Linked DNA regions of Homo sapiens. The protein of the gene in region 7 purifies or fractionates together with the protein of the main gene of each other region. This does not show direct contact. Each region holds a gene or a part of one and is shown on either strand. Other genes may lie near its edges.

Region 1 (3,500 bases), on a different chromosome or scaffold from region 7:
TTTTTTTTTTTGAGATATGGAGTCTCACTCTGTCACCCAGGCTGGAGTACAGTGGTGCAATCTCGGCTCACTGCAAGCTCTACCTCCTGGGTTCACGTCATTCTCCTGCCTCAGCCTCTGGAGTAGCTGGGACTACAGGCGCCTGCCATCACGCCCGGGTAATTTTTTGTATTTTTAGTAGAAATGGGGTTTCACTGTGTTAGCCAGGATGGTCTTGATCTCCTGACCTCGTGATCCGCCTGCCTCGGCCTCCCAAAGTGCTGGGATTACAGGCATGAGCCACCGCGCCCGGCCAGCCTTTCTTTCTTTTCAAGCCTGTCCAATGAAAACCCTATTGGTGGAAGTCTAAATTAGCACTACTGATAAGGAAGACAATTTAGTAATATGTATTAAAGTTTCTTTGTCTTCTTTTTGAGATGGAGTCTCACTCTATCGCCTAGGCTGGAGTGCAATGGCGCGATCTTGGCTCCCTGCAACCTCTGCCTCCCGGGTTCAAGTGATTCTCCTGCCTCAGCCGCCCGATTAGCTGGGATTACAGGCATGCACCACCATGCCTGGCTAATTTTTGTATTTTTAGTAGTAACGGGGTTTCACCATGTTGGCCAGGCTGCTCTGGAACTCCTGAACTCAGGTGATCCACCGGCCTCGACCTCGAAAAGTGCTAGGATTACAGTCGTGAGCCACTGCACCTGACCTATCAGTTTCATTTGTGCATGCACACCTTTTGGCTCAGCAATTCCATTTCTAGGAATTTTTCCAGGAAATCATCTGAAATGTCTGTATAAGTGTATCCATAAGGATGGTTATAAATTTGATTGCTTAGAACAGTGCTGCCCAACAGAACTTTCTGCAATGATAGAAATGCTCTCTATCTGTGTTGCCTAATATGTAGCCACTAACCACAAGTGGCCACTGAGCTATACAATGTGGCCAGTGTGACTGAGACACTGGCCAAATTTCTACTGAGACAAATTTCTACTTCTAATTTTAATTAAATTTAGGTAGTCCACATGGCTAGTGCTACAACATTGCACAGCAGACAACTATACCATTGGATATAGAAAATTACATTAAACATTTAGGTAGTTTCCAATTTCCTGCGTTACCCAATAGTCTAGTTCTATGCTGTGCAATCTTGTAGCAACTAGTAATATGAAATAGAATAGAAAGCAGCTTCAAAACAATGATATAACATGGTGTGCTATCAATAACAGTTGGGTTACATGAAAAAAGCAGATTCAAACAGCAGGCACGGTGTGATTTTTTTTTTTTAGACGGAGTTTCGCTCTGTCACCCAGGCCAGAGTGCAGTGGTGCAATCTCAGCTCACTGCAAGCTCCGCCTCCCGGGTTCACACCATTCTCCTGCCTCAGCCTCCTGAGTAGCTGGGACTACAGGCGCCTGCCACCATGCTAATTTTTTGTATTTTTAGTAGAGATGGGGTTTCACTGTGTTAGCCCGGATGGTCTCGATCTCCTGACCTCGTGATCCACCTGCCTCAGCCTCCCAAAGTACTGGGAATACAGGTGCAAGCCACCGCATCTGGCCGATATTTTTATAAATAAAAATGTTAGCAGTGTCTAGAATCATTAATTGTTAGCTCTGGGTGGTAAGATAACAGGTGATGTTTCTGTCTTCATATCTTTTTTTTTTTTTGAGACACAGTCTCAATTTTGTCACCCAGGCTAGAGTGCAGTGGTGTGATCTCGGCCCACTGCAATCTCCACCTCCTGGGTTCAAGAGATTCTCCTGCCTCAGCCTCCCAAGTAACTGGGACTACAGGCGCGTGCCATCACACCCGGCTAATTTTTGTATTTTTTGTAGAGATGGGGTTTCACCATATTGGCCAGGCTGGTCTCAAATTCCTGACCTCAAGTGATCCGCCCTCAAGTGAGCCACCACGTCTGGCCTCTGTCATCATATCTTTATGCGTTGCTTGAATCTTTACATTTCCACCTTTCGGAAAAAAAAAAATCTGATAATCTACCGTCAAATCTCCCAAATCCACAAGTTACCTGAGAACATCTACAAATGTTCTGAAAGCACTGGTTAGAATAATTCTAGAATTTAATTTGCTAGAATATATGATACTTCACGGTACTACACAATAAAGCTGATATTTTCTTAGCAAGAGATGACAGGTAAGAGAATTTTGAAATTCCCTCTTACTTGGTTTCTGTTGTTGATATGTCTGCATAATTCCTCAAGATCTTTGTTGCTGAACAGATTTCCCTTAATTTCCATTTTCTTATCTTTTGAAATGGCTGCCATTAACAAGCGGTGTACTACAATATCTGAATATCTTCTTATTGGAGAAGTAAAGTGGGTATATTTATCTAATGCAAGACCTTCAAAAAGAAAGCAAAAGATCAAAATAAACAAAAACTATTTTAAAATAACTAGCGCAAAGTTACAGCCACACATAGGAATATGGTATGATTCACCGTAATGATGGAACTCCTCCTCCGCACAGGATCCGGTGGAGAAGTACAGAGCATTCGACATGGCCTGCGTGGCCATGGAGCGCAGTAGCCTGTTCACAATGGGATCGTGGGGGTCGTTCGCATTATCCAGAGAATCAGCCAGTGTTTTATTGGACCTGACAAAGAACAGAAAAACCGTTAGCTAGTCCCAGACAGTAATTTACAAGACAACACTTTGAGGGGAACCCTTCACTCATCCGTCTGAATACCTTCATCTGCCAGTAAATTTGTTTTGGACACGTTTCAGAAGCACCTCTTTTCAACTACAGAAATCTAGTTTGCTTTACGGCTTAAACAAAACAAGAGTGTCAGAATTTAAATACATTTCTTAAGTAGAAATGAATCATGTACTGATTTTAATACTAGGTTAAGTTAGTGCTTGGCTATAATAGGTGGTCAAATACTCGTTGAATTGAATTCTTTACATCCTTAACCTTAAACATTCTATATATAGGTAAAATAATGGACTTGGTGTACAAGTAAAAGAAACCTAAATTAGTTTTTCTTTTTTAAAGAGGTAGTAAGCATTCTATTTATTTATTCTCAAAATAATTTTTTTGTAGAGACAGGGTCTCACTTTGTTGCCCAGGCTAGTCTTGAACTCCTGGCCTTCAGTGATCCTCCTGCCTCGGCCTCCCAAAGTGCTGGGGTTACAGGTGTGAGCCACTGCATACAGCCTCAAAATAATAATTTCAAAGCCCCAGGAAATATAGAGGTATATTAAAAATAAAACTAATAACATATAATTCAGTCCTATATTGTGGCTGGCTAAGGGAAAAGGGGGAAAGGAGAAATAGAGCATGATGATGAACAGAGAGGCAAGGTGTTAAGTGGTCACTATGTGAGCTTGCAAGTTTAACAGACTTGGATTCAAATCTTGGCTCTGCCCTGACTGTTAAATTACAGGCAAATTACTTAATCTCTTCAGACTTAATTGACTTATCTGTAAATATGAATGATGCTGCCATCACCTCAGCATTAAGAATTAACCAAGAGGATGTCTGAAAGCCCTTGTCCC
Region 2 (4,252 bases), on a different chromosome or scaffold from region 7:
GGCATTCAATTATAAACACACATATTCAGTATTCATGCATTTGATTTTAAGTGTATAACATATGAGAACACGCCAGGCTTGGTGGCTCACACCTGTAATCCCAGCACTTTGGGAGGCCAAGGTGGGCGGATCACCTGAGGTCAGGAGTTTGAGACCAGCCTGGCCAACACTTTGGTGAAACCCTGTCTCTACTAAAAATACAAAAATTAGCCAGGCGTGGTGGCTCATGCCTGTAATCCCAGCTACTCAGGACGCCAAAGGAGGAGAATCACTTGAACCTGGGAGGTGGAGATTGCAGTGAGCGGAGATCGCGCCACTGCACTCCAGCCTGGGTGACAGAATGAGATCCATCTCAACATATGGGCATGAGATTCAGGTGTGTCCTTATTTCAGCCCAAGTAGACTGAGGTATCCCTCAAAAGTAGACCCAAGCAGACTGAGATATCCACCAAATCATCAACCTGATCATATTTTAAATCTCAAAATAACAGTAGCCAACCACAAATAAATGGTCAAGCTTTCCACCTGTAGACCTTCAACATCACAGCTTAAACCCAACAACTATTAAATTTACTATTTCAGGTCAAGCTGCTATGCTAAACAGTCTCATTTCCTAATAAGAAAAAGATACGAACTAGAATAGGAACTGTGATTTAAAGGCTACAGGGATGCAGAGCATGGCCATCCCATCTAGTCTGGAAAACTAGGAAATGACGCAGCAATATCTAACCAAATCTGTAGGCAAAGCTTACTGTGCAGAGTGACAGAGCAGAGTTACAGAATCCATGAAAGCACCAGGCCACTCCTACTCCGGCCTGCACAGGTAGGCAAGGGCTGAAAATCACTAGTTATGGTTAGTGTAGTTAACAGAAGGCCAGCGGAGTCATGAAAATGTTCAAAAGTAAAACTGTCCAAGAAAATCAGACATTCCCATCTCCATGTTTTTATATGTCCAAAATTTCTATTCTGACTTAAATCCTAAATGTAATTGATCCAATTTGGAAACTACTACAAAAAGCTCACCCCTCAATTTTTTGCCATTTTATTGAGTTATCTTTCTCAATCAGGTTAATTCCCAACGCTCTAAGCCATACATTGTATGTAATGCATGAACTTCTTCCCCTTTTGTCTGGGTAGTGTCAGTTATGTGGAGGTGGTACTAGTTATTTGCATAACTAGTACCTTGGGGGACCTGAGAAAACAGTCATTCATATTCAGTGTGACATAATACATATATGGTACTAACAAGAAAGAGTATTTTTTATTTGCTAGTGGCACAATTTCAACCCATATCTAAGCACAGCCTCCAGGCAATGTTCAAACCTGAGATAAGATTCAATTCCCCACAGGGGCTTTACGGTGTGACATATGCAGAAAACGTCATTTTAGTGCTAAAAGTGAGGCAATATTCCAGAAAACAGAGGAAAGGGACAAGAAACAGATTAAAAGCAAAACACGTTTAAATATTAATGAGAACAATGCTACCGATGTCCATGAAATTTTGTGCAGTACTGCACTGTGAAGCTAAGCCCATTTCCAAAAACAGCTGAATGGAAAGATCTATTGTTCCCTTTACAGCAAGGCAGCAGACTTTTTACAGAGATTAATTGACTGGCCCAAGTCACAAGGTAGGTGACAGAGTGGGCTGAACACGTAACCACCATCCTAAGCACTGGGTCAAAAAAAACAAAGGCTGACTGTCAACTGAAATTTAAAAGACGCAAAGACCATCAGTCGGGTGCCCAAGTTGGTGAATGATGCAACCAACTGACAGAAGATGGAGAGGGAAAAGGGCAGTTTTTGTAAATTTGGGGACATCTGACAAAAAGCTGATGACACAGGTGGGAGTTTTTTGTTTGGGATTTTTTTTTTTTTTTCTTAAGACAGGGTCTTGCTTTGTCACCCAGACTGGAGTGCAATGGCTCAATCATAGCTCACTGTAGCTTCAAACTCCGGGGCTCAAGTGAACCTCCCGGGATCAAGTGACCCTCCCGCCTCACCCTCCAGAGTAGCTGGGACTACAGGCGCGTGCCACCACGCCGACCTAAGTGTTTTTTTTGTTTTGTTTTTTGTAGAGAGGGGTCTAGCTATGTTGCCCAGGCTGGTCTCCATCTCCTGGGCTCAAAGCTGTCCTTCCTCCTAGGCCTCCCAGAGTGCAGGGATTACAGGCATAAGCCACCGCTCCCGGCCCGCCACAGCTGTCTCTCCTGGTTCACGGTCACCCAAACGCCGGCTCGAAGTGTGGGAGAGGAGGTTGGGGGCGACCCCAGGTGGGCACTGCTGGCGTCCGGCTGTCAATCCACAGCTCACGTCCTCACAGGTGCGCGCCTAGAGTCACGCGTCCAGCACCGCCCGGCTGGCCGGGAAGAGGCGACCGGGTCCGTGGTCCGAGTCCCGCACCTCCGGCCTCTCTCTGGGCCCCGGGGCAACAGCCCCTCCCGGGCCGCACAGGCCGCACTGAGGGCGCCACTCCGGGGCTCCCGAACTCCCGGGCTCCCGGCGGGGACGAGGCGCAGGGACGGGGGCACTTCCGGCTCGCGGGGCCCGGGTCGCCCGCCCGCCCGACCCGCCCACCTGGCTGTCGCTGACGCAGAAGACGCGGCCGCCACGGCTCAGGCACACGCGGGCGCCCGGGGGCTGCGCGGCCGCGCCGCAGAAGGTGAAGGAACAGCGCGAGGCACGCAGCCGCCGCACCGTGGCGCGCACGAGCTCAGCCGGCCGGCGACCCCAGCGCGCCCACAGGTACAGGTAGCACAGCGTGATGAGCATGGCCGCGCCGCCGGCAGGGCGAGCCCGCCTTGCCCGCCCGCCCCAGCGCCCCAGGCCCGGCCCCGCCCCGGCCGGAAGGGCCGCGCCGCCCCCCCGGGCCAGGCGGCGCGGGGGTGGGGACGGCGGGGGAGGCGGGGACCCGGAAGGTGACGCGGGCAACTGGAGGCTGCGGCGGGAGGGGCGGGGGGGGGTGAGGCCGCGCCCGGCTGTGTGATGGGGAGCTCCGGAGGCCGCGCCCAGGGCTGGTGGCGGCGGCGAGGGGCAGCGCTGGGGCGGGGGGTGTGCACCGGGGTCAGGGGACGCCGGGGCTGCACCCGGAGAGGGGGCTCGAGGGAGTGGAGGCCGGGGTGCGGGGCCGCGCCAGGGCTGAGGAGTGGGATGGGTATGTTGTGGATGCGGGGGAGGGGAGGCTCCAGTGGCTGCCCGACCTGTTTAAGCCAAGTCCGGCCTCCCTTCCTTGGAGGGGTGGGAGGCGGATTGAGGAGGGGGCTCTGCCTATGTTCATAGCTGCCAAGGCCAACCTTTACTAACCAGCAGCACACCGGGAGTCCCAGAGCGCTCCACAGCCGCTACCCAGTCGACTTGGGAAAATAAGATAAGGCCGTTTTTATTAAATTATACTAAGCCTTCATGCAAAAGATTTTAAGGTCAATCACATACATTCACGGGATGCAATAATGTTTTTTTAAATAAGGACAGGAAACAGAAATTGAAGACAGATAAGCACCAAGAAGGCTGCCTCTAAAAAGGCTGTGCCAGGAAGGCTCCCTATGGTGTTCTTGCTACATGTGGGTCAACAGTTTGACTGTAAGCATCCTAACACCAGTGGGAAAAGGAAAACATCACCATGATTTGGTGTTCTTGTCTCCAAGGGAAGCATAATTAGTCCTGACACAGAGGCTTCTCCCATAGAACCTCATTTCTTTAAAAGGCATTATGTAAAGAACGTGTTCTGAACAGCTGCGAAGCACAGCAAAGAATTCCATCCAGTGGCTTCCTATTCTGGCCCTCGCTGAAAATAGGTGGCAAGATGCAGCAAAAGCAATCATGTACACCACGTCCATGTCTTAATCTAAGGATAGTTTTTGTTTGTTTGTTTTTGAGACAGTCTCTCTCTGTCACCCAGGCTGGAGTGCAGTGGTGCAATCTCGGCTCACTGCAAGCTCTGCCTCCTGGGTTCAAGCGATTCTCCTGCCTCAGCCTCCCGAGTAGCTGGGATTACAGGTGCCCGTCACCATGCCTGGCTAACTTTTGTATTTTTAGTAGAGACAGGGTTTCACCACGTTGGCCAGGGTGGTCTCGAACTCCTGACCTCAGGTGATCCACCCGCCTCTGCCTCCCAAAGTGCTGGGATTACAGGCGTGAACCACCGCGCCCAGCTAGGATAGATTTTTTTTAAGAGACAAGGTTTCGTTCTGTCGCCCAGGCTGGAGTGCCGTGGCATAATCACAGCTCTCTGCAGCTTCGAACTCTGAGCTGAAGT
Region 3 (2,618 bases), on a different chromosome or scaffold from region 7:
ACATTTTTAAACTTTTTGACTCTCTTAATTAACACCTAGCTTAAAGCACGAACACATTGTATAGCTGAACACAAATATTTTTTTCTTTACATCATTATTCTGTAGGCTTTTTTCTGTTTTAAATTTTTTTAAAAAACTTTTTTTGTTAAAAATTAAAACTAACACTAAAAAGTTTTTGTTAAACCAAGACAAATATCGCCTTCTACCTCCATATGTTGTCTCCCTCTAAGGGCTTCAGGGACAATAAAATGTATGGAGCTGACAGCTCCACATTATTGTGTGTGATTTTGGTGTCATATCAAAAAAATCATTGCCAATACCAGTGTGATGGAATTTTGATCATTTTAAAATGAAGTAGTTTGTCTTATTGAGTTTTAAGAATGCTTTATCTATTCTTCATTGTGAAAAATAGAATATTGGGAAATCGCTGTTTGGTTTGGTTTCTAGGATGACCATCTGTATGTAAGAAGTGAAATGAAGCACAGATGAGAAAAGTCTTAGTATTTAATCAACATTTATTTATTGTCAATTTTAATACAATCCGGTTGTTTGAATCCAAAGACTTGAAACAAATGTGTTACAGTCAAATTAAGGAACTATGTAGCAGTGACAGATACTCTTCCTTTTCATCTGGGCATGGATGATATTTTTTCAGGTGGAAACGTTATTGAACTACAGTAGTAGGTGGAAAGCATTGTATTTCCATGGAATAACTCCTCAATATATTTCCCAATATTGAGCAGCCTCTTAGAAATAGGGAGCAAGATCTTTCTGCTGAAAACAAGCTAAAGCCCACATTTGAATGTTTTTTTTTTTCCTGAAATGATAAATCCCTATTCTTTATGAAATAATGCTCTTGCTCACTGGCTTGGGAAAAGACCCTGATGCTACTTTTTTATGCCACTAATTAACTTACTGATTAAATATATACCCAAGAAAAAGGACTTGATGGTTTTGATAAGTAAAGACACTACCGCTGCTGCATCTTTGCTTTCAGAGCCTTCACCTTCTGCCACAATACCAAAAATTGGGACACACCAAACTTGGGGCACACTAAAAATTAGGGTACACTAATTGCTGTAAAACAAAGCTTTGTATCTAGGACTGGTAATGCATTTGTAATATTTTGCTTCTAAGAAATGTAAGGTTAGCTTTGGCACCATCTATAAATGAATGATGAGCTCTCAAAAAGACAACTCCAACTAAACCCAAAGCTCTTTAAAAGCTTTTCATTATTCCTCAAAGTTTAACCCTCATTCTAACAAGTTATTCCACTCAGTATTTTCTAACAAAGTAGCACAAATGCCTAACAGTCTTTGGAAGGAACCCCATAACAAGATATATGCTACAGTTTTAGGCTCTAAAGAAAGAGACAGAAATGCATTGATTCACTTTTAGAACGAATTTCATGATGGATTGCTTGTCTTTCATGATGAATTCATAGATGACTTTCCTATTTCTTAAATTGCTACTTGAGTAAATTGCATTTATGTTTATTATTCACTGATAAAAGTAGCACCTCTGCTCTTGGACATATTCATAGGGTGAAGTGCTACTAGGAAAACTGAGAAAATATGAGCCAGAACTTCCCCCATCATGGTTACTTCCTCCTTTGCAATAAGAATACCCATCTTGCCCTGAGCCACTTCCATGCTGACTATAACCAGAGGACTGTCCTGAGCCAGACCCATGTTGGCCGTAGCTGGAAGACTGCCCTGAACCAGACCCGTGTCGGCCGTGGCTAAGAGACTGGCCAGATCCAGCCCCATGTCGGCCATAGCCAGAAGACTGACTGGAGCCAGAGCCACGGTGGCCATAGCTGGAAGACTGGCCTGTGCTAGATCCCTCCTGGTCAAAGGTTGATGACTGTCCTGATGTAGAACCATGCTGTCCTTGGCTACAGAAGTGCCCTGAGCCACTACCATGCTGACTGTAAGCAGAGGAATGTCCTGAGCCAGACTCATGTTGACCAAAGACAGAAGAGTGACCCAAGCGAGACTCATATGGGCCACGGCTGGAAGAACGACCTGAGCCAGACCCATGTTGGCCGTGGCTGGAGGAGTGCCCCAAACCGGACCCATGTCGGCCGCGGCTAGGGGACTGGCCAGATCCAGACCCTTGTCGGCCGTGGCCCGAAGACTGACGGGAGCCAGACCCATGCTGACCATAGTGGGAAGACGAACCTGAGCTAGATCCGTGTCGTTCACCCCTAGATGACTGTCCTGATCTAGAGCCGTGTTGTCCGTAGCCAGAGGAGTGACCTGAGCCAGACCCATGCTGACTGTAACTAGAGGACTGCCCTGAGCTAGACTCGTGGTGACCAAAGCCAGAAGACTCGCCTAAGCCAGACCCATGTTGGCCACTGCTGGAAGACCGACCGGAGCCAGACCCATGTCGGCCGTAGCTGGGAGACTGCCTTGACCCAGACCCACGCTGGCCGTGGCCTGGAGACTGGCCAGATCCAGAGCCCTGTCGGCCATAGCCAGAAGACTGACTTGAGCCAGAGCCATGCTGACCGTGGCTGGAAGACTGACCTGAGCTAGCTCCATGTTGGCCACAGCTCGATGACTGTCCTGATGTAGAACCATGTTGCCCATGGGTAGAGGAATGACCTGAGC
Region 4 (3,500 bases), about 49 Mb from region 7:
GAATGATTTCCGCAATCTGAGCTTCCCAGTGGGCCACTGACTCCTTCTTGGCTGCCAGATCCTGCAGCTCATCCTCCAGCTGTCTATTTTGAGCTGTGAGTTTATCCACAAAGGAACAGAGCTGAAATGAAACAATTTCACCACAGAACTTGTTAATCGGGCATCCTTTAAGTATGCTGGATTTAACACTGGAAGTTCTTTTGAAGACTCTGAAAGTTTTCTTTAATCGTCATGAGATTTTTCCAAACTAAGTTCATGATATGGATTTTTTTCACTGTATCTAGCTTAAGTCACATTTCAATTCAAATCTAAACCTAAACTGATGGAGCTGGAGCTAGTGACTTCAGGCAATTGGCATCTTTTCGCTGAATACAAACATCCTATTTAAAAGACCAAACACATGACTCCATTCAAAAATTAAAACAGTCACGTGTAGTGAAACAGCAAGAACACGGTCTGAGAAACGTGTCCTTGCACACACAGCGTGAATGCACTCACGCAAGCCTAGACGGTGCGGCTGCCGCACACCAGGCCCTGTGGTACAGCCTGTCAATTCCAGGCCCCAAGCCTGCATACCATGTTGCTGTGCGGGACGCTGCCGGCGGCTGTAGCACAATGCTAAGTATCTGTGTATCTCAACACAGAAGAGGTAGAGTAAAGTACAGTATTATGATCGTACGGGACGCCTGTTGTACACACAGTCTATCATTGATGGAAGCATCGTTATATGGCACATTACTGCACTGTAAAAAGACACCAAACTTCGGCCGGCGCAGTGGCTCATGCCTGTAATCCCAGCACTTTGGGAGGCTGAGGTGGGTGGATCATGAGGTCAGGAGATTGAGACCATCCTGGCTAACACGGTGAAAACCCGTCTCTACTAAAAATACAAAAACTTAGCCAGGCGTGGTGGCAGACGCCTGTAGTCCCAGCCACTTGGGAGGCTGAGGTGGGAGAATGGCATGAACCTGGGAGGCAGAGGTTGCAGTGAGCCAAGATCGCGTCACTGCACTCCAGCCTGAGCGACAGAGCGAGACTCCATCTCAAAAAAAAAAAACCAAACTTCCAAGACTCAAGAATGACGACATTCTACTCCCCCATAAATATATATACCTACTATGTACCCACACAAATTAAAAATAATTTTTTTTTAAATTACAACTTCCACACAAAGTGCTAACTCAGGTACTTTGAATTAATTACCTTTTCATTTTCAGCAGTTAGCTTCTTGTTTTCATCAAACAGCATCGCTCTTTCTCGTTCGTATTTATCTTTTATTGTACCTACTGCCTCCTCCATCTCGTTATGCCTGCCAAGGTGAGCGAGAAACAGTTTTAAAAGCTCGTAACTTCACTGATATTCGTATCTATGGCGTGGGTATCAGCTTGCATCTTCTGAACTGAGAAGCTCATGAAAACCTACCGTTCTCGCTTTGACTTTTCTAACTTATCTTTTAACATCAAGATTTCTTTCTGCAGGGCCAGCTGGTGGCTTTCTGAATCATGCACCTCCTTCTTCACATTTTTCACTTCTAGCACATGGGAGGCCTCACGTCTGACCAATTCCTCTTCATAAAATAAGACTTTCTTCTCCAGCTCGGATTTGATTTTGGAAATCTCTTGCTGGTGCTCTAAGGTGGCACCCGCTCCCCGGCCTCCTTGCTTCACCTGAAGACAAAGGTTAACATAAATTGACAAACCTCTGTGTCCTCAAGGGTCACACTGTCCTTTCAACCCCTTTCATCCCAAGCAAGTGCAGACACCTTCCCAAGGACTGTGTGTGCCTGGTCTACACCAGATGACGTAGCTGACCTGGCTAACGTGATCCAGGTTCTAGGGGGTCACAGCAGGAGACGGCCTTGCAGGGGGATGTGCCCAGGTCTGCCTGGGACCCCCGAAGCTCTGCCCCACACCCTGTTCATTCATGCTTGCAGCATTCTTCTGAGGGCTGACTCTGTGCTGGGCCCCCTCCTTGTGACTGGGGTGACACTGAGGTCTCTGCTCTCTTGGGGCTGGCGGGAACTGACAGCAAACCAGTAAAGGGGCAGAGGGGCCGTGCACCCCAGCCAGGTTGTAGGGAGTGGAGGGCGTGCCAGGATGGCTGGGGCGGCTTCTGTAAGGTGCTGGCCTATTAAGTGAGGTGTCAGGCTAGGGGCAAAGAACAAGGGCACAGGCTGGAGTGAGGTGGGACGTGTTGGCAGTGTTTGCAGCATGCAGAGAGGCCAGTGTGTCTGGTGTGGCGGGGCAAGGAGGGGCAGGAGAGGCACTGCTGGGCTGGAGCAGGCAGGAGGGTAGCTGCTGGACAGCTGCGGAGCCACGGAGGCCCTGCCGCACAGGAATGTGATCCGGCTTTGGTCTGCCAAGCTCACTCTGCCTGCTGTGCAGAGAGGAGACTCAAGGGCTGAGAAAGGGGCAGGAGCCTCGGGCACCACATGCCGAGGTCCAGCCAAGCCCGCTGCCAGGGAGGAACAGCATCTCAGGCCCACGTCCCAGAGGAAGAGTTGCCAGATCACTGAGGCGAAGGGAGAGGGCAGACCCATCGCACGCGGCTCACACATGAGGAGATCCAGGCCACGCCATACTGCCAAGGAGATCCGCCTCCGGCCCCTTGCCCACTTGGCCACTGTGGCCTTCCCCACTCCCGCCCTCCGCGGCCTCCCTGCTACCCTCCAGCCCCACCAGTGGGCCCCGACTGATGGCCAGCCTGTCTCTTCCCCAGTCAGCAGCAGGCTACGGGCTTTAAGGAGCTTTTCCAAAACTCAACTGCACCGAATTTAGAATACCACGATGTGAAGAAGGCTATGAATTGATGGGGCTGGAGTAGGAAATGAGCCAATTAGATATTCGTTTCCTAGGACTTACTGTGAATTGCCTGAAACTTTTATATAACAAAGGAAAAACATGAACTTGGCCTTTAAAAATGAAAGCAGTCACGAAGGCAGGGGTCACACCCCCCACCTCTCCACATGTGGGTCTTGTCTGAACAGCCTCGGGTGACACTCGGCCCGGACCACACATTACACAAGGTGACTTCCATGTGGTGGCGTCAGCAAAGATAAGCATCCCTCTCAGTTAAGGGCAGAGACCCCCGCCCAGCACTACCTTGAGGGCCTCCAGCTCGCTTTCCATTTGCTTGCAGAAGTTCTCGCTGTGCTCACGAAGCTTGCGCTCCTTGGAGGCCTCAGCAACAGCATCATCAAGCTGAGCTTCCAGCTACAAAAGGAAGATCCAGTTTCTATTAACAAAAAGCGAGCCCTGCTTCACCAGTTACAGCAGCACCCACGGGACCTCCACAAGAACAAGACCTCGAAGGAGCTCTGCGCGTGTTCACCCTTCATCAAATCTTATCACAAATTAAAGTTTGAGAAATACACTTCTGGGTTCAACTGGGATGGTTGGTTACTAATAAAACAAGGTTCAATTCTAGCTTAAATTGACACTTAAATTTCAAGAAAGGATACATTTCTTGAAATTTAAATTTCACTGATTCGTGAAAACCAG
Region 5 (3,976 bases), on a different chromosome or scaffold from region 7:
ACTGAGATATTCTCGAGGAATAACCTACTTACTGTAAGGGTTTGTAAATCTGTGGCAGCTAAGACCAGGCCCTCTGAGTACATCTGGAGGTGAACTTCCTTAAAAGAAATGCGTCCAAATGCTCCAACAGGTTCAAGATCGTATCACCGAAGGGTAAAGCTCTTTACAGAGTCTACAAAAAAATTGTGACTTCAGCTCTGCCAGGGAAAGAGTGCCCAGGCGACCCGCCATGGCGGGCTTCCCCAGGGACAGCCCAGGTGTGACCCATGTGGGCTCGAGGCCACCATATTTGATGCCACCTGCAGAGCTGAGGGCAGCTGTCTCCTATTAACCCGAGGTTGCAGCAACCAAGCCGCGTTCCCCACATAATATTGGTTTCCAAAGTATCATTTTCCCCAGAAAAGAAGAGGCGTGGACTTACTAACCTTCAATATGTCTAACTCCTCCCAGGTGGCAAAACCAGGGTAACAGAGAACACCGCGATTCTGCCAATGTATCCTAATCTCACATGCCTGTACACAAACTCCCGCGCATTTTAGCAAGCTTTTGGACATGGAGCTCAAAGGAATGACCCATAAATATTTTCCAATACATGCAGTATCTTAATTTTTTTTCTTTCTTTTTTTTTGTAGACACAGAGTCTCACTATGTTGCCCAGGATGCTCTGGAACTCCTCGGCTCAAGCGAGCCTCCTGCCTCGGCCTCCCAAAGCACTGGGATGACAAGCATGAGCCACCGTACAAGGCCCACAGCACCTAAATTCCAAAATAACCTTGAAACCCTGACTTTCCACCCGCCCTGGTGGCTTCCAGAGATCAGTTCCTCTTCCTGTGCCAAAGGTTTCTTGTCTTTCGCGGCCCAGGTAAGGTCACTCAAGGTGCTCCCTCTGCTTCTGAAGGCCTTTGACTGAGAAGCCACTCTGGGTCCTATCCCGACCCCAAGGCGGCTCCATTCGTACCCGCACATCTCCGGGCCGGTTTAAGTCACGCGGGCCAGGCTATTTCCACTTCACTCTCCTGTTTCTTCAATCCCATCCTCTGCTGCATCACGTTTTCTTTCTCTGAGAACCCAGCCCTGCAGGAAGAACGTTGATGCTGGGGTCCTTTTACTGGAATGCTAACGCCAGAGCACTTCCCGGGGGCGCTGCAGGGCGGGCTGCGGGGCGGGGCCTGGCGCTGCCACCCGGGTCTCCCGCGGGGGGCGCTGGGCCTGGGGAGGCTGCGCTGCGGGCCTGGGGAGCGCGCGGCGCACGGGTGTCGGGGCCGGGGCTCGTGGAGACGACGGGCCGGGCATCACGTAGGCGCTCGTGGCGGGCGGGGCGGCGCCCACAGCGCCTCAACCTGCGGCACCCGCGCCCGCCCCGCGCGCTCAAGGGCGAAGGGAAGGTCACCCGCGCAGTGGGCAGGGGGTGCATCCCCGCTCCAACCCTGTGCAGTGCGCGGCCCCGAAACGGGAGGAAATCCGCCATCCGGGCCTTTCCACGCATCTGCGGCAGGAGGAACCGGGAAAACAAAAATCAAAACCCAGCTCGGGGCGCGCCGCGTCTCCAGCCTGCGCGATCGCTAAGGCTCCCAGGTTGCGTTCGCCTGGGAAGCGCCGATCTACCCGCCAGGGATTGCACGGATCGGGACACTCCATCATCCGGGCACCGGCGCCCCCACGTGCACCCGGGGCCTGGGGCGCGCCGAGTCTCCGCCACCTTCCGCTCTTCAATGTTAAATATCCTCCCGGCGCGCCCGCGTCCGTGGGCCCAGCCTCGGGCCCCTCCTAGAGAGCAGCTTCCACATTGCAGGGCAGGGAAGCCCGGAGCCCGCGCCGCGGCGCCGCTGACATCCCGGAGTCCCCGCTTCCTGATCCTTCCCGTCTGCGGAGGCTGGCGGGGAGGGCCTGGGACCCATTTTGGTTTTCGTTTTTGTCACGAGCCGGAAGGCGACAGCACATGCGAGCGCAGGAAACCCTTTTTAAAAATCTCCCAGCGGAAACGCGAGGGGCTGCCGGACCGCCCTGGAGACGCCAGGCGGGAACCCCGCGCACCCCCGCCGCGTCCCGCATTGCAGCAGCCAGGACCCCGCCCACGCCGCGCAGGGCACGAGGCGACAGGAGGCGCGCGGGGACCCAGCCGTTTCTTCCTCGACATTCTAGGGGGTGGCGTGCGGCGGAGTTGGGGGGCGGGGGGGCACTTAGGAAGTGATCGCGCTGTACCCACGCTTCGGAGGGGACGCCCGGCCCCGTCCTACAGCTCAGAGGCAGAACGACCCCCGAGGGCGCTTCAGGCGACTCCCTCTGCCAGGTTCCATTTAAAACAAAACCGAAGGTGGAAAACTCACTGATCTTCCGGATGGAGGTTCCTACCGCCATGTCCCTTCCTCCCCCGCCCCACCGGGCAAGGACCCCGGGGCTGCCTCGCCGGCTCATGCCGCCCCGCAGGTACCCCTGCCGCTTCCGGGCGCGGGCTTCTTCCCGGTTCTCCCCATCGCTTCCCCGCTCTTCTCCCCGGTTCTCCCCATCGCTTCGCCACCTTTCCCCGGGTCCCCCCCATCGCTTCCCCCCTCTTCTCTCCGGTCACCCCATCGCCTTCGCCCGGTTCTCCCCAGCTCCGTCCGTCCGTCCCTCCCTCGCCGCCGGGAGGGGGGCGCGCACCTTGAGCATCCCCGCCGCTGGTCAGCACGCCGATGGCCTTGCCGGCCCCGGAGAGGTGCTCCAGGAACTTCCGCAAGGAGCCCTTGGGGGCCCGGGAGTCGTCCGCGTCCATGGCGAGGAGGCCGAGGGGAGCCGCACGTCCGGGTGCGCAGCAGGCAATGGGGACCCTGCCCGCGCGCGCCTGACTCGGAACCGCCGCCCCGCCCGCGCCCCCGCCCGGCCCCAGCGCCAATGGGCGGTGACGGGCGGGGCCCGAGCGTATGGGAGGGGCTGCGGGGGAGGGGGCGCGGGCGCGGCTAGGGGCAGGGGCCGGGGCTGGGGCGGGTGTGGGCAGGAGCATCTACGCGGGGGTCGTCGTAGGTGGGGGCCGCGCTAGCGGTGCGGGAGGCGGCAGAGGCAGGGGTAGCGCCACAGGTGGGCGGGTCCCTGCTAGTGGGGCCGCATCGCAGGTGCGCGAGCCTCGCGGGTGGGCTGGAGGACTCTGGTTGGGGGCTCTAGAGATGACGGGAGCGCCACAGGTGGGGCAGGGGCAGCGTCCGGAGGAGGGGAGACCGCAGGGGGCCGGGGTCACATCGTTTGCGGGGCGCGCCAGGGCGGGGCGGGATAGAACGCCGGGAGCATCTCCCGGGGGGGCGAGGGAGACCGTGAGTGGGCGCGAGCGCCGGGGCGGGTGGAAACCCCGCAGTTGCGGGGAGCGCCGATGGCGGGGAGGGGTGGAATGGGGGCGCGGAGACCCCACCTGGACGCGGAGGCTCGCGGCAGGCCCGGCCGCTCGGGCCGTTGTGGGGGCCGAGCCCGGCCGCGCGCACAGCTTCTAGTGGCCCGCAAGATTCCTCCTGGGGCGGCGCTGGGAGCCTCGGGGCTCGGCTTCCTCGACCCCCGCCCCCAGGTTTCCTCTGCAGCCTGAGGTCGGGAAGGACGGACGGAGAGTGGATCCTCCAGGTGGTGGGAAAAGGTGAGCGTGGCGGGCTGGGCCATGACGAAGCTGCCATTTCCCGGGCCCATGGGGGCTGTGGTGCTCCTGGGCCCCCAGCCCCGCCCTTGGGGGGAAGAAGCCGTGGGGTGGAGGAAGGTATCGGGGCGCGACCCTCAGAGACGCCCTGGCGGCGCCCCGGCCTGGGCGCTGGAAAGTCAGAGTGGGGCAGGAGGAGGCGCAACAGGACTGGCCTGGCGGGGAGGCGGGGAGGCGGGAGGACCCTCCCTCCCCACGGACACGCGCGCTGCTGTACGCTCTGCCTGACCTCGGCCGGCTCCACTGGCCAGCTCCACGTACTGAAATACTCACATCCAATGCACTGTGCGGTTGCCCATCCACAGCTTAACAGCCTGGTGCCAG
Region 6 (3,500 bases), on a different chromosome or scaffold from region 7:
CCATACTTCTGAGCATTTATCCCAGAGAAATGAAAACTGTGTCTACACAAGAACCTGTACACAATTGTTCAGAGCAGTTTCATTTGTAACAGCCCAAACTTGGAAACAACCAAAATGTCCTACTATAGGTAAGTGGTTAAACAAACTGTGATATATTCATACTATGGACTACTACTCAGCAAAAAAAAAAGTAAGGAAAAAAGAACTATTGATAGATGCAAAAACTTGGATAGATCTCAAGGGCATTGTGCTTAGTGAAAAAGCCCTTCTCAAAAGGTCACATCTTGTATCATTCCATTTATATAGCATTGTTGAAATGACAAAATTATAGATATGGAGGACAAATTGGTGCTTGCCAGGTTAGGGACAGTGGGAGGTGGCGGTATGACTAGTAAGAATAAGCATGAGGGAGATGTTTGTTATGATGGATAGGTCTATGTCCTGATTGTGTAGGTAGTTACGCAAATAAACACGTGATAAAATGAGAGCGAACCATTAACACACACTGCACCATTGTGAACTTCCTGATTTTCATATTGTGTCACATAAGAGGAAACCATTGGGGGGACTGGGTGAAGGGCACATGGAAGCTCTCTATCTTTGAATCGTCCTGTAAATCAATAATTATTTCAAAAAATTAAAATGGATGCAAAGCCAAATGTCTCAAACCTCTGGTAGAATTTTCTACATTCTCTATAATAAAACAATACTTTCTCCTTTTAATGGCTCCCAAAATAAGTCTAGTTTTTATTTTTATAGGGTATTTTGCAAACAAAGATAAAACAGTCTTTCAATCACACGCAAAATAATAAACTGTTTTTATCTCAGATCCTGGCATTCCTTTCTCTTCCATCTTCATTTCATCTTCTGGCCTTTCAAATCTCATATTTTGAGTTTTCCAGTTTACCTCTCAGTGACCTGCATTACCCCCCAAAAGTTACTGTTCCCCCATATCTTATTCTTTCATTTCCACAAAATTGTACATTACCTCAGAAAAATTTCAACTAGGTATTAGATGATCTAATACCAGTTAGTTGCAGTGGATATGACTGACTGATTACACCCTTCATTAAAGGTATACTTAACAACAACAAAAAAAGCTCCTTTGCCCAAATTAATATCAATAGTAAAAGCTACAATGTAAGAGAGATTTCTGAGCAGAAAGACCTTTCAAATTCTCCTTGCCTACTCGGAGCCATCCCTTGCCCATTCCTCACTGCACACAAATCCCTCTCACAATGCTCTAGGCTAACTTCAACAACTTGATACCTTACTTCATAAAATAAACATCCCAGGAAAACAACTAACATTTACAACACACTTTGGTTTATGCTCATTAGACTGTAGAATACATAAAAGCAAGTATCTATTGTCATCTCCATTTCGGACATGAGGTAACTTGGACTCGGTTAAGCACCTTCTCAAGATCACACAGGTGAATAGTAAGTTGCTGAACAGGGGCTGTAACTCAGACCTCCTGATTCTCAATCCTAAGTAATGTGCAAACATTTCATCAAACCAAACACCCCATTCCTAATCTGGTAGTAGATTATTTTATAAAAGCTAGGCAAATAGTTGATCCAACTGAACAGAACTGAACCTATCTAGAGTTAAGGTTCTCAAAATGTGGTTAAGCCATGATCGGTAATATGACAGGTAATTCTAAATAGAGATTTCAAAACAGAAAGAACATACTCATATGGGGTTGAAGAACTCAGCTAGCACAGCAGGAAACAGCAAGGAGAGGAGACTATTTACTTCAGCTAATTTTACTACCTTCTACACCTCAGCAACCCAAGTTTGTGATAAAAAGGGCAGAATCATGGTGCTATCATCAAGTCTGAATTTGAATAAATGAATTTGAATCTCTAGTTCTCTCATATTTTGGCCAACAAAAAGAAGACCAAAGTAAGGCTAAGCACAGAAAATCTGAAGAAATCATCCATGATAACGTGATTTAATCTCCTGACTCTCCTCTATTCTCTCCAGAGGGAGCATGGCTGGGACTTGTCATCCCTTGGTCAAAGTGTAAGGTTAAAAAAAAAAAAAAAAAAAAAAAAAAAACACAAAAAACAGAAGGCTGAATAATTGGAAAGAGACTTGAAAATTAGTCACAGGAAAGAAAGCACTTGGATGGCAGCAAACAGAAATGAAGAGTACATTACCCCAGGACCAATCAGCCAAATAAAATGGTCCTTAGACCAAAAGTTTGAGAACCACACAATATACAAATTAACAAGTAATACAAATTAAATAGTAAATGTGTTTTACCATGAAGAGTAGATTAACAAATAGGATAGAAATCACAATCTTAAACTTGCTAAACATTACATCAACATTTATTAATAACAGCCTGCTTTTTGATTCAAAGGAGTACCTATCCCCATTTGGCCTCCTCTCGAAAGAGGATCAGGTTGCACCAGGACAAATAAAAAAAGAAGCTTTCATAGAAGTCTTACCAACACGATATTTTAGCTCGATGATCGTTTCACCTTCTCTGGTTAATTCTGTTACTTCACAAGTGTAGTTTCCTGTGTGTGAGACAGCATCACTCTTATCCATCTTCAAAGAGGCATCTCCTTTTAGTAATTGTGAGACTTCAATTTTTGCACTACTAAAGTCAGTGGGGACAGTGGACTTGTTTAGAGCTCCATCAAAGGTGTAAATATCTCTTCCTTTAAATTTCCACTTTACGTATACTTCAGTAGTGTTTTGTGCCTCCATATTAGTAACAAAGCATGGAATGACGACAGTGTCATTACAAAACGTGAATTCTACAGATTTTGTTTTATTAAATAGTAGCTGAGCTGATCCTGGAAAGGAAAAAGAAAAATGTTTCATTAATTATAGAAGTCTGTACTGTAAGATCTTAGGCATGTTACAAATCCTTAAGATAAACAGCAACATTTCCATTGTTCACTTAAGTAAACAGTATAGCAATGAAGAAGACCTATTAGGTGAAATATGCAAACAAATTATATTTTAATATTAACTTGCACAGCTGGAAGGCATCATTATGACTTTTCTTTATTCATTCTCAATAATACAAAGTATACATTACATGCATCTTGGGAATAAATTCAGCAACTATGTTGGAACATGCAGGTGTAGTATCTGGCTTTGGAAGCTTTGAAGTAATCATTACTGCCTACTGATATATGTAGAAAAATATTGTCCTTATCAAGGTAAAATTTTGAACAGAAAACCAAACCAAATATTTTATTCAGTCTCAACTTCAACACACTGCTAAATAGAACTTGCTGAACTGATATGAAATTTATCTTTATCCTTATGCTGCATTTCCAAAAAAAGTGGCAGGTTCTACTGTACTTTAATATACAAAGTAAATAGGATGAATCAAATCATATCTTTCCACTAGGATGGAAAATCTTAAAATACTAATGAGGAAAAAAAAAACATTATCTGTGGCTACTTTCCCATAGCAAAATATAGGCAGCAATAGACATTTTGTATGGGAGTCTTGAATGACATTTTCCCAC
Region 7 (3,500 bases):
TAGTGTATAGAATGCCTATAGTATTCATATCATTATAATGAGAATAGCTAGGTCACAGAAGTTTAATACAGGTAATGTTTTATTTACTGGCGACCTAGTCTATAAAATTAAATACACAAGGATGTGTTACAGTGCAGATATGAGGGAGAATACTAGCACCTCTGACACCATGGCCATGCTGGAGATTTTATATACAATACTCAGAGTCAAGCAAACAGCTAAGTGATGAAGTAGCAGACATGGTTGATTTTGTGAGAAAAAGAAAAAAAGTGCTATCATCCTTAATTGAACATAGATCTATCATACCTTAATTGATAGCACTTTTTTTCTTTTTCTCACAAAATCAACCATATTTGCTACTCAATTTTAAGTGTTTTAAGAGTTATTTTATGCCAGGCATGGTGGCTCATGCCTGTAATCCCAGCACTTTGGGAGGCGGAGGCGGGCAGATCAACTGAGGTCGGGAGTTCAAGACCAGCCTGACAAACATGGTGAAACCCCGTCTCTACTAAAAATACAAAATTAGCTGGGCGTGGTGACACATGCTTGTAATCCCAGCTACTTGAGAGGCTGAGGCAGGAGAATCACTTGAACCTGGGAGGCAGAGGTTGCAGTGAGCTGAGATCGTGCCATTGCACTCCGGCCTGGTGACAGAGCAAGACTCCATCTCAAAAAAAAAAAAAAAAAAAAAGAGGGGGGGTTATTTTAAAGCAGTATTCATTGCAAAAAAAAATTTTTTGCAAGAACAGCAATTGACTTATTTTGAAATTCAGTAAAAGGCATTTTGACTTGTAATATGAGGTTTAATTCTAGACCCCTTTTGATTCAGACATATCAATAGGCACTTCAGATTTATAGATTGTCATTTGGTATTAGTTTGGCTTAAGAAATTTAATTTCATATTCTCCCTCTTGATGGTATTTAAATGTGTGATGTTTTCTATGTGTGTGTGTCTGTGTATCCTGGTCTATTGGCAGAAGAACTAAAGAGCTGTGGTATACAAGACATATTTGTTTTCTGCACCAGAGGGGAACTGTCAAAATATAGAGTCCCAAACCTTCTGGATCTCTACCAGCAATGTGGAATTATCACCCATCATCATCCAATCGCAGATGGAGGGACTCCTGACATAGCCAGCTGCTGTGAAATAATGGAAGAGCTTACAACCTGCCTTAAAAATTACCGAAAAACCTTAATACAGTACGTTCTTTTCTCCATACACTATGTGAGAAATGTCTCAGTCAAAATGATTTCTGGAATTATGGTAGCCCTATTCAGTTATCACCTACTTCATAGTTTGTTGTAAGGATTAAAAGGTAATAATGCACTAGGAAAGCACTGGCACAATGTCTGGTACAGGGTAAGTAGTCAAATACGTGCTGTTATTACTTTTCAAGAGTAGGGACAATAAATGAGTAGATTTGGAAATTGTTAGAACAAGGTTACAAGCTTTTCTTTTTTATTTCTTTCCTTTAGTCTTAGACCTTTAGTTGCAATTTTGGGACCCTCCTTTCCCCTCATCACCATCACTGCCTCACTTATTAGCTTTTCAATTGCTTAGTTGCTTTCAATAGCAAGAAAATCAATTTTTTGGCCAGGTGCAGTGGCTCGCGCCTGTAATCCCAGCATTTTGGGAGACTGTGGTGGGTGGCTCACTTGAGCTCAGGAGTTCAAGACCAGCCTGGGCAACATGGCAAAACCCCATCTCCGCAAAAAGTATACAAAAGAACATGCCAGGCATGGTGGTACGTGCCTGTAGTCCCAGCTACTCAGGAGGATGAGGTGGGGGAACTGCTTGAGCCTGGGAGACAGAGGTTGCAGTGAGCCAAGGTGACAGTACTGCACTCCAGCCTGGGTGACAGGGAGACCCCATCTAGAAAAAAAAAAATAAAGAAAGTCGATTTTTTCAAAATTAGCTACCAAAAAAGTTACCTCTAAGCAATAAGCAATCCTAAAAATATGACTTGAAAATTACATTTGATGATATGACTGCTAACAGATTGAAAGAGGGCCTCTCATTGTGTGTCAGTGGCTATAAAAACACAAGCTGCTGGTGTGAAAGTTTAAAACAAAAGAAGATGGGTTAAGGAAAGGGGACAAAATGAGGAGGAAAGAAAAGCAGCTTGGAGGAAGGCCAGAGAGAGTGGCAATGGGCAGTAGATAGTAGCATGGCAAAGATTCAAAGGGGCGATGTGGATAAAAAACAAGAGATGCTCTGCCGGAAGTGAAACACACAAAGCAACAGAGAGCCAGCCATGGGGAGGAAACTGGACTTTGCCGTGCATAATGTATATTTCATATTCTAATAACCTGCTTAATCCTTTCTCGAATAAGGTAGGGTATTAAATAGTTTACGACCTCAAAAGCCCCAAGTTCCTTAAGGACATTGCTTTGAGCTAGAAGTATAGAAATTATATCAAATAGCCATGGGGTTCTCAGGGCACCTAGTCATAGGACAAGCCCAGCCAACTTCTCCTCTTAAACCTATAGCCCAGGGGCCTCATGCCAACAGTGTCAGTTCTGAAGGCAAACCAACTAGTACGAGGGTCTTTGGGGACACACACCTGTTTGTGGCCAAACTGAACTCTGACATACAGAGAAATATAGTTTGCAGAATATGCAGTAGAGAACTAGAAGCCATTCTACATCCTATTGTTTCCCATCTTCCTCTATGGAAAAAGCATAGTCACTTAACCAGTACTAATTATAAAAGCTAAATTTCAAATAGATCCAGTTGATGATGTGAAAGTTTCTGATACATATAGGTAAAATAGTATTAGATAGTTAAATGTAGCTGGGGAAAAATATTTTCCAACATAGGGCCCTATTTTTCAAACCATTTTGAGATCTTTTTTTTTTTTTTCAAATAAATTTTTGAAAGCAGCCTCTACTGAAAAGTTTCCAGAAATCAAACTAGCTCTGTTTAGTGAAGTGAAGCTTAACAAATTCTACTGTAGCTGGTTCTGGCAACCCAAATGCTCTGATGTTTGTGCAGAGTACAAACAGGATAGACAGTAGATGGGTGACTTTGCATATGCTGAATGTTTCAGTCTCCCATAAAATAAAGCATCTGACAACTGGCATTTTTCATTGTCCTAGAGCTTTCGAAGGTGTCCTACGGTGACTAGTTTATTTTCTATCCATTCTGCCATCTTTGAGGACCCACACTTCTAGACAGCTATAGAGCTTATCCTTCAGCAACAGGATCTGGTAAACCTTTTTCACTGACCTGTTGTCTACCAGTGCTGTCTCACTGGTTCTGCCTGGACATTTGCAGCCCTTTATAAAATTAGTGAACAACACTGCTTGCCTACTGTATTTTGTAGTTTCTTGGGGCTATTGTAACAAAGTACCACAAACCAGGTAGCTGAAAACAACAGAAATTTCTTCTTTCCCATTTCTAGAGGATGTAAGTCCAAAATTAAGATGAGAGCAGAGCCATGCCCTCTGAGACTGAGGAGAGTCCTTCCATGCCTCTTCCTAGCTTCTGGTGGTGGCCA

What was found.
Region 1: the proteins of CDKN3 (region 7) and DIS3L purify together in Homo sapiens (affinity purification with mass spectrometry, with the first as the bait; one large-scale study listed by BioGRID). This does not show direct contact.
Region 2: the proteins of CDKN3 (region 7) and HLCS purify together in Homo sapiens (affinity purification with mass spectrometry; one large-scale study listed by BioGRID and IntAct). This does not show direct contact.
Region 3: the proteins of CDKN3 (region 7) and HRNR purify together in Homo sapiens (affinity purification with mass spectrometry; one large-scale study listed by BioGRID and IntAct). This does not show direct contact.
Region 4: the proteins of CDKN3 (region 7) and CDC42BPB purify together in Homo sapiens (affinity purification with western blotting, with the first as the bait; one study listed by BioGRID). This does not show direct contact.
Region 5: the proteins of CDKN3 (region 7) and PFKP purify together in Homo sapiens (affinity purification with mass spectrometry, with the first as the bait; one large-scale study listed by BioGRID). This does not show direct contact.
Region 6: the proteins of CDKN3 (region 7) and CD47 purify together in Homo sapiens (affinity purification with mass spectrometry; one large-scale study listed by BioGRID and IntAct). This does not show direct contact.

The regions. Positions count from the first base shown.
Region 1 is NC_000015.10:66,328,068-66,331,567, reverse strand, and holds part of DIS3L (DIS3-like exonuclease 1), read right to left. Parts: intron 2,599-3,500; coding exon 2,444-2,598; intron 2,348-2,443; coding exon 2,169-2,347; intron 1,956-2,168; coding exon of another isoform or gene 1,944-1,955; exon of another isoform or gene 1-1,943. UniProt on the Homo sapiens protein: Catalytic component of the RNA exosome complex which has 3'->5' exoribonuclease activity and participates in a multitude of cellular RNA processing and degradation events.
Region 2 is NC_000021.9:36,963,870-36,968,121, forward strand, and holds the start of HLCS (biotin--protein ligase), read right to left. Parts: upstream 2,801-4,252; 5' UTR 2,770-2,800; coding exon 2,575-2,769; intron 2,524-2,574; exon of another isoform or gene 1-2,523. UniProt on the Homo sapiens protein: Biotin--protein ligase catalyzing the biotinylation of the 4 biotin-dependent carboxylases acetyl-CoA-carboxylase, pyruvate carboxylase, propionyl-CoA carboxylase, and methylcrotonyl-CoA carboxylase.
Region 3 is NC_000001.11:152,211,576-152,214,193, forward strand, and holds the end of HRNR (hornerin), read right to left. Parts: coding exon 1,501-2,618; 3' UTR 501-1,500; downstream 1-500. UniProt on the Homo sapiens protein: Component of the epidermal cornified cell envelopes.
Region 4 is NC_000014.9:102,967,050-102,970,549, forward strand, and holds part of CDC42BPB (serine/threonine-protein kinase MRCK beta), read right to left. Parts: intron 3,213-3,500; coding exon 3,102-3,212; intron 1,668-3,101; coding exon 1,423-1,667; intron 1,310-1,422; coding exon 1,204-1,309; intron 122-1,203; coding exon 1-121. UniProt on the Homo sapiens protein: Serine/threonine-protein kinase which is an important downstream effector of CDC42 and plays a role in the regulation of cytoskeleton reorganization and cell migration. Regulates actin cytoskeletal reorganization via phosphorylation of PPP1R12C and MYL9/MLC2.
Region 5 is NC_000010.11:3,066,372-3,070,347, reverse strand, and holds the start of PFKP (ATP-dependent 6-phosphofructokinase, platelet type), read right to left. Parts: upstream 2,801-3,976; 5' UTR 2,753-2,800; coding exon 2,641-2,752; intron 2,379-2,640; exon of another isoform or gene 2,359-2,378; coding exon of another isoform or gene 2,328-2,358; intron 1,722-2,327; exon of another isoform or gene 1,427-1,721; intron 1,160-1,426; exon of another isoform or gene 967-1,159; coding exon of another isoform or gene 959-966; intron 1-958. Other genes in the region: wiskott-Aldrich syndrome protein family member 1-like, read right to left, coding at 3,208-3,645. UniProt on the Homo sapiens protein: Catalyzes the phosphorylation of D-fructose 6-phosphate to fructose 1,6-bisphosphate by ATP, the first committing step of glycolysis.
Region 6 is NC_000003.12:108,077,532-108,081,031, forward strand, and holds part of CD47 (leukocyte surface antigen CD47 isoform 1 precursor), read right to left. Parts: intron 2,814-3,500; coding exon 2,460-2,813; intron 1-2,459. UniProt on the Homo sapiens protein: Adhesive protein that mediates cell-to-cell interactions. Acts as a receptor for thrombospondin THBS1 and as modulator of integrin signaling through the activation of heterotrimeric G proteins.
Region 7 is NC_000014.9:54,410,507-54,414,006, forward strand, and holds part of CDKN3 (cyclin-dependent kinase inhibitor 3), read left to right. Parts: intron 1-977; coding exon 978-1,200; intron 1,201-3,500. UniProt on the Homo sapiens protein: May play a role in cell cycle regulation. Dual specificity CC phosphatase active toward substrates containing either phosphotyrosine or phosphoserine residues. Dephosphorylates CDK2 at 'Thr-160' in a cyclin-dependent manner.